Linked DNA regions of Homo sapiens. Changing the gene in region 1 together with any one later gene gives a genetic interaction. Each region holds a gene or a part of one and is shown on either strand. Other genes may lie near its edges.

Region 1 (3,773 bases):
GCCTGACAACCGCCCCGTCTGAGAAGTGAGGAGCCCCTCCGCCCGGCAGCCACATCGTCTGAGAAGTGAGGAGCCCCTCCGCCTGGCAGCCACCCCGTCTGGGAAGTGAGGAGCGTCTCCGCCCGGCAGCCACCCCGTCCGGGAGGGAGGTGGGGGGGGTTAGCTCCCCACCCGGCCAGCCGCCCCGTCCAGGAGGGAGGTGGGGGGGTCATCCCCCCACCCGGCCAGCCGCCCATCCGGGAGGGAGGTGGGGGGGTCAGCCCCCGGCCCGGCCAGCCGCCCTGTCCGGGAGGTGAGGGGCGCCTCTGCCCGGCCGCCCCTACTGGGAAGTGAGGAGCCTCTCTGCCCAGTCAGCCGCCCCGTCCGGGAAGGAGGTGGGGGAGGTCAGCCCCCCGCCCGGCCAGCCGCCCCATCCGGGAGGGAGGTAGGGGGGTCAGCCCCCCGCCCGGCCAGCCACCCCGTCCGGGAGGAAGGTGGGGGGGTCAGCCCCCCGCCCGGCCAGCCGCCCCGTCCGGGAGGGAGGTGGGGGGGTCAGCCCCCCGCCCGGCCAGCCGCCCCGTCCAGGAGGTGAGGGGCGCCTCTGCCCGGCCGCCCCTACTGGGAAGTGAGGAGCCCCTCTGCCCGGCCAGCCGCCCCGTCCGGGAGGGAGGTGGGGGGGTCAGCCCCCCGCCCGGCCAGCCGCCCCGTCCAGGAGGTGAGGGGCGCCTCTGCCCGGCCGCCCCTACTGGGAAGTGAGGAGCCCCTCTGCCCGCCCACCACCCCGTCTGGGAGGTGTACTCAACAGCTCATTGAGAACGGACCATGATGACAGTGGCGGTTTTGTGGAATAGAAAGGCGGGAAAGGTGGGGAAAAGATTGAGAAATCGGATGGTTGCCGTGTCTGTGTAGAAAGAGGTAGACATGGGAGACTTTTCATTTTGTTCTGTACTAAGAAAAATTCTTCTGCCTTGGGATCCTGTTGATCTGTGACCTTACCCCCAACCCTGTGCTCTCTGAAACATGTGCTGTGTCCACTCAGGGTTGAATGGATTAAGGGTGGTGCAAGATGTGCTTTGTTAAACAGATGCTTGAAGGCAGCATGCTCGTTAAGAGTCATCACCACTCCCTAATCTCAAGTACCCAGGGACACAAACACTGCGGAAGGCCGCAGGGTCCTCTGCCTAGGAAAACCAGAGACCTTTGTTCACTTGTTTATCTGCTGACCTTCCCTCCACTATTGTCCTGTGACCCTGCCAAATCCCCCTCTGCAAGAAACACCCAAGAATGATCAATTAAAAAAAAAAAAACCCAAAAAAAACAAAATCTGGTGGCAGATGCCTGTAGTCCAGCTACTCAGGAGGCTGAGGTGGGTGGATCACCTAAGCCTGGGGGAGTCAAGGCTGCAGTAAGTTGTGATCACACCACTGCACTCCAGCCTGGGCAAAAGAGACCCTGCCTCAAAAAAATAAATAAAAATAAATAAGAAAGAGAGCTCTGTAATAACTACCAACAGAATCTGTTAAGAGAAATCTACTTTCTTTCTTTCTTTTTTTTTTTTTTTTTTTGAGACAGAGTCTTGCTCTGTCGCCCAGGCTGGAGTGCAGTGGCGTGATCTCGACTCACTGCAGGCTCCGCCTCCCGGGTTCACGCCATTCTCCTACCTCAGCCTCCTGAGTAGCTGGGACTACAGGCACCCGCCACCACGCCCGGCTAATTTTTTGTATATTTAGTAGAGACGGGGTTTCACCATGTTAGCCAGGATGGTCTCGATCTCCTGACTTCGTGATCCACCAGCCTCAGCCTCCCAAAGTGCTGGGATTACAGGCGTGAGCCACCACGCCTGGCGAGAAATCTACTTTCATAAGAAGCTGAGCAAACTCAGGTGCAGAGAAGAAATGGGAGCATTCCCCTAAAGCCCCCTCTCATTCCTTCATGTACCTGGATCGTTTACGGTCCTTGTCCCGTCTGTGCCCATCCTTGTCTCGATCTCGGTCCTTCTTATTCCGATCCCGCTCCTTATCTCGTTCTCGTTCTTTGTGCCGTCGTTCTCTGGAAGACCGCAAATTTAAGAGTTCACTTGGTATTTCCAAAGTATCTTGCTTCACTGCAGCCCTGAGAAAGTTCCTATACTCTCGTCCCAAAGTAATGTTTTACAAATTAGAGAATGTATCTCTCACGGAAATAACGAGGGAATTCTAAGAAGCTTTTATAGATCAGAGATGTACTGTTAAATATTAACGGCAATGACAGGTCACGGACTATGTGAACAGATGAACCTTCCTTTTTTATTTTTTTGAGATGGAGTCTCACTCTCACGCCCAGGCTGGAGTGCAGTGGTGTGATCTCGGCTCACTGCAGCCTCTGCCTCCCGAGTTCAAGGAATTGTCATGCCTCAGCCTCCCGAGTAGCTGGGATTACAGATGTGCACCACCATGCCTGGCTAATTTTTGTATTTTTAGTAGAGACGGGGTTTTGCCATGTTGGCCAGGCTGCTCTCAAACTCCTCACCTCAAGTAATCCACCTACCTCGGCCTCCCAAAGTGCTGGGATTATAGGTATGAGCCACCGCGCCCGGCCACAGATGAACCTTCCTTGATAACCCGGACCTTCACCTTACTAGTTCCCTCTCAACTTTTTTTTTTTTTATTTTTAGTAGAGATCAGGTATCACTGTGTTAGCCAGGATGGTCTCGATCTCCTGACCTCGTGATCCACCTGCCTCGGCCTCCCAAAGTGCTGGGATTACAGGCGTGAACCAACCGCGCCCGGCCCCCTCTCAACTTTTAAGAGTTGGGTCACTGAGGAAAACTGAAAACACCTGCAGGTCCAACTGGGCTAGGAGTAGATTAATGTACAAAAAGTAGATGCCTAGCCGGGCGTGGTGGCTCACGCCCGTAATCCCAGCACTTTGGGAAGCTGAGGTGGGTGGATCACCTGAGGTCGGAAGATTGAGATCAGCCTGACCAACGTGGAGAAACCCCGTCTCTACTAAAAGTACAAAATTAGCCAGGTGTGGTGGCACATGCCTGTAATCCCAGCTATTCGGGAGGCTGAGGCAGGAGAATTGCTTGAACCTGGGAGGCAGAGGTTGCAGTGAGCCGAGATCGTGCCATTGCACTCCAGCCTGGGAAACAAGAGTGAAACTCCATCTTTTAAAAAAAAAAAAAAAAAGGCCAGGCGCGGTGGCTCACGCCTATAATCTCAGCACTTGGGGAGGCTGAAGCAGGCAGATCACGTCAGGAGATCGAGACCATCCTGGCTAACACGGTGAAACCTCATCTCTACTAAAAATACAAAAACATTAGCCGGGCATGGTGTCGGGCGCCTGTAGTCCCAGCTACGCACTCAGGAGGCAGAGGCAGGAGAATGGCGTGAACCTGCGAGGCGGAGCTTGCAGTGAGCTGAGATCGCACCACTGCACTCCAGTCTGGGTAACAAACAGAGCGAGACTCTGTCTCAAAAAATAAAAATAAAAAGTAGATGCCTAATACTGGAGGCATCAGAAGAACCAAGAAGGAAGAAATCTGAAACGTACTCTCCCTTCCCATGTAATAACATACAAAGTTACTTTACCTTTCTGCAGATTTGGAACGGGAACGAGAGCGAGAACGGCTGCCTCCTCGACGTCTATCCCTTGAACGATGCCGCTTTCTATCTTTAGATGGGGAAGACTTCCGGTCCCGGTCTCTATCCCGCTCTCTGTCAGGAGTCCGTGATCGCTTCCTTTCCTCCTTGGAAGGTGATGCATCACGGTCCTTTTTGTCAGCCAGCTCTCCTGCCATCTGTAATGAGTAG
Region 2 (3,507 bases), on another chromosome or scaffold:
TGTAGGGGCCTACACCTTCTGAGGAGCAGGAGGGAGCCACCCTCCCTGCAGCTACCCTAGCTGAGGAGCCTGTTGTGAGGGGCAGAATGAGAAAGGCAATAAAGGGAGAAAGAAAGTCCTGGTGGCTGAGGTGGGCGGGTCACACTGCAGGAAGCCTCAGGCTGGGGCAGGGTGGCACTTGGGGGGGCAGGCCAAGTTCACCTAAATGGGGGTCTCTATATGTTCAGGCCCAGGGGCCCCCATTGACAGGAGCTGGGAGCTCTGCACCACGAGCTTCAGTCACCCCGAGAGGAGAGGAGGTAACGAGGAGGGCGGACTCCAGGCCCCGGCCCAGAGATTTGGACTTGGCTGGCTTGCAGGGGTCCTAAGAAACTCCACTCTGGACAGCGCCAGGAGGCCCTGGGTTCCATTCCTAACTCTGCCTCAAACTGTACATTTGGATAAGCCCTAGTAGTTCCCTGGGCCTGTTTTTCTATAAAACGAGGCAACTGGACTGTTAGTGGTTTTCAATCTTTTCTTTTAGGAAGTTTTATTTATTTTTATTATTTTTATTTTCCCAATGAGCCCTCTGCACTCCTAAGGAAATTTTATTTGATGAGGACCAACTGGTGACATAAAATAGATTCCAAGCTGCAATGCCCCACTGACTCCATCTCCCTGACCAGGGAATTCCAGGTGCTAAGCAGCTTTGTTTAAAAACCACTGGACCAGATGGTATCCCTGGTTCCTGCGTATTTCACAAGGTCCCCAGGGCTAGGCATCTTCTACATGACACATATGGCTGCAAACACTTAGATTCTAATTGTACCCCAAAAGATGTTGTTAAAAGGCTGGCTAGCCTGGGTTGGGGGACAGACGGGGGCTGGGGGCTGTTTCACGGCATAAGCTCAGGTCAAGGGGCCGTAGCTGCAGTAGAGCTGGGATAAGGTCCTGCTCAGAGCAGGCCCCAGATTCCTGCAGGAAGAGAGGCAGCGAGGGTCACGCCCTGGGCCTAGGGCAGCCCCAGTCCCTGCCACTCCCTCCAGGTTCCGTCTCTTGCCCTCACCTCTGTAGACGCCCACACTTAATGGTGCTCAGCAGTGTCTCTTGTTCCTTGGGGGTGGCACAGGCATCATAGGCGGCCAGGAGGCTGGGGGGCAGGGGTTTGAGTTTCTGAGGCTGACAGTGGCCCACTCTGGGCCAGCACCATGAGGGGCCAGGCAGAGGGGTCAGCATGGGATGGAAGAGTTGGGACACTGCCCCACTTCCTGAGCTTGGCACTCAAGGCCCCATGCCAGCCGGGCTGTCCTCCCTCCCTGTGGGAACTCTGGGGCAAAACCAGCAAAGGCTCCAAACCTTCACCCTCACTCCCCTTAATGGCCCAACCCCTTCTCCAGGAAGCCTCTTCTCCACCAGGTGGGACGTCTCCCTCCCTCCTGTGGCCTCCACTACCTGGGACACTATGTGGGCCTGCTGGCTTCCTCCCCACTTGACCTCCACGAGCACCCTGGGATCTGTCTATCTCTGGTCTGCAGAGCCCACACAAGGCCAGGCCCCCTCCACGAAGCATGGATTAAGGTGAATTCCATGCATGGAGGGCAGGGGCTGAGGACACCTAAGGGCCCTTTAGGGCCTACCTGGCAGGGGTGCTGTATCGATCCACCAGGGCTGCTGCCTTCTCCCCACTCACTCCGCGCACCTGCATCAGCTGCCGGGCAAACACTTCTCGCACCGACTGGGCCTGGGTTCGGGAAAGGGCTGGATCAGTGGGGGTCTGGGCCAGGCCATGTCTGAGAAGCTAGGCAGAGACAGTACCTTATTCTTGATGGCTCCTGCGTTGAAGTCACTGAAGGTGAGGAGTGAGCAGAGAGGGTTTGGAGAGGTCATGGCCCCTGATTCAGGGTTCCCAGGGGTTCCCCAGGGGCGGCTGCGTAGGGTGTGGCCCTGAGGGAAGAAGGGACTGAGGCCAGGCTGGAGCTCGAAGGAACAACTCCAGCCAGCCCCTGCCCAGTCCTCAGCCTTGGGGGGCCAGCCTGAGAAATGGGGATCTCACCCACCTTGCTTCTTTTGGGGATGCACAGGGCCCAGGCAAGGTGAATTCCTTGTGGGCTCTGTCCCGACACTGGGAAAGGGGCCTCTGCTCACCTGGTAGAGTCTCTGCAGGCCCCGCGTCAAGAGGGCCAGGTAGGCGGCTGACTCCTTAATGTCTGCTGTGCGCTTCACAAAAAAGCCATCAATGACCTGGGGAAGAGGACCCAAGAGAGGGAAGGTGGCTCCTGGCCTAGACCATGAACCATGGACCACAGGGGCCCCTGCCTGCCTGCCTGGCCCTGCCCTCCCAGCTCACCTGAGTGTTGGTGACAGCCTGCAGCAGTGTGCTCTCAGGAAGGCTGAGGTTGTGGACGGAACCATGCTCTTCCACCAGGTATACCCGGCGCTCCAGACCACAGCGCTTCAGCCGGAACTAGGGAAGTGTACAGAGTGGACAGGGAGGGTCAGGCTGGATGACCACATGCCTGGGCATCCATGATGTCACACTCAAAATGGTGCCGGGACCCTGTTCCCACCAGTTAGCCTCTGCATCCTCCCTAGCCTCTCCACCTGCCTCACAGGGGCCTCCGCAGCTTTGCTCATGCTGACACTCTTGTCTAGAAAGCCTTTTCTCCATCTCTCAACACTGCCCATCCTTCAAGCCTCCCCTGGGCCGGCACATGGCCTCTGTGACTAGGGGTCCACCCAGCAGCAAGTACCAAGGTACAGCCTCTGTATTTCCACTCCTGGAGGTTTATGCCTTGTTTATCCAAGACTGCAGGGGCTGGGTACCCAAGAGGTCTTTAAAATGCTCCTGACCTCAGCCCAAGAATGCAGGTACCTGGCTTCCTACTGTGCGCCTGGATGGGCCTGTGGGGGTCTGATCCTGGAGCAGCCACAGGGTGGGTGTGGCTGGATTCCAAAGGGCTCTGCCTCAAGGAGGCTGCCAGAAGTGCCCCTGGATTGCTCTGGGCTGAAAACGGGGCTTCGGAGCAGGCAGGGAAGCCTGGCAAAGCCAGCAAAATTACCTTCTGCTCCCGGAAGCGGCCGTCGATGATGCTGCTGCAAAGGTCATCCAGTCGCTTGCGCTCCACAATGTGATCCAGTACCAACTCCCCAGGGTTTGCTGCTGACAAGCCAGCCGTTAGCTTGCGATCCCCTACCCACCAGGCCCTGCCCCTGGTGCCAGCCTGTCCACGGCCCTTCACCTGGGTCTCTAGGATTGGTCTCCTGGGCCACCCACACAAAATCTCCAACGTGCAGCTTGCGCACCGTGTGGGTCACGTGCAGCCGCTGTAGCTCTCGGAGCAGCTCCGGCCTGTGCCCGCCCCTGGAGTGGCAAGGAGGGAAGCCTAGATCAGAGCAGGGCAGTGCCTACCCCCCAGCCTCCTCTGATCATCTCCCTCGTTTCTCCCCACCTCACTCACCCCCGGGTCTCGCCAATGTCCACACACAACAGCACCCTGTACTCTCCAGGCCTCAGCTCCAGTGGCTGCT

The links. A genetic interaction does not mean that the proteins touch.
Region 2: changes in DDX23 (region 1) and MUS81 impair growth when combined (synthetic growth defect), as found in Homo sapiens cells (one large-scale study listed by BioGRID).

Annotation. Positions count from the first base shown.
Region 1 is NC_000012.12:48,842,023-48,845,795, forward strand, and holds part of DDX23 (probable ATP-dependent RNA helicase DDX23), read right to left. Parts: intron 3,761-3,773; coding exon 3,552-3,760; intron 2,029-3,551; coding exon 1,918-2,028; intron 1-1,917. UniProt on the Homo sapiens protein: Involved in pre-mRNA splicing and its phosphorylated form (by SRPK2) is required for spliceosomal B complex formation.
Region 2 is NC_000011.10:65,863,433-65,866,939, reverse strand, and holds the end of MUS81 (structure-specific endonuclease subunit MUS81), read right to left. Parts: coding exon 3,438-3,507; intron 3,363-3,437; coding exon of another isoform or gene 3,341-3,362; coding exon 3,219-3,340; intron 3,140-3,218; coding exon of another isoform or gene 3,137-3,139; coding exon 3,039-3,136; intron 2,444-3,038; coding exon 2,327-2,443; intron 2,221-2,326; coding exon 2,125-2,220; intron 1,924-2,124; coding exon 1,795-1,923; exon of another isoform or gene 1,794-1,794; intron 1,721-1,793; coding exon 1,617-1,720; intron 1,130-1,616; coding exon 1,046-1,129; intron 955-1,045; coding exon 888-954; 3' UTR 501-887; downstream 1-500. Other genes in the region: EFEMP2 (EGF-containing fibulin-like extracellular matrix protein 2 precursor), read left to right, coding at 1-22. UniProt on the Homo sapiens protein: Catalytic subunit of two functionally distinct, structure-specific, heterodimeric DNA endonucleases MUS81-EME1 and MUS81-EME2 that are involved in the maintenance of genome stability.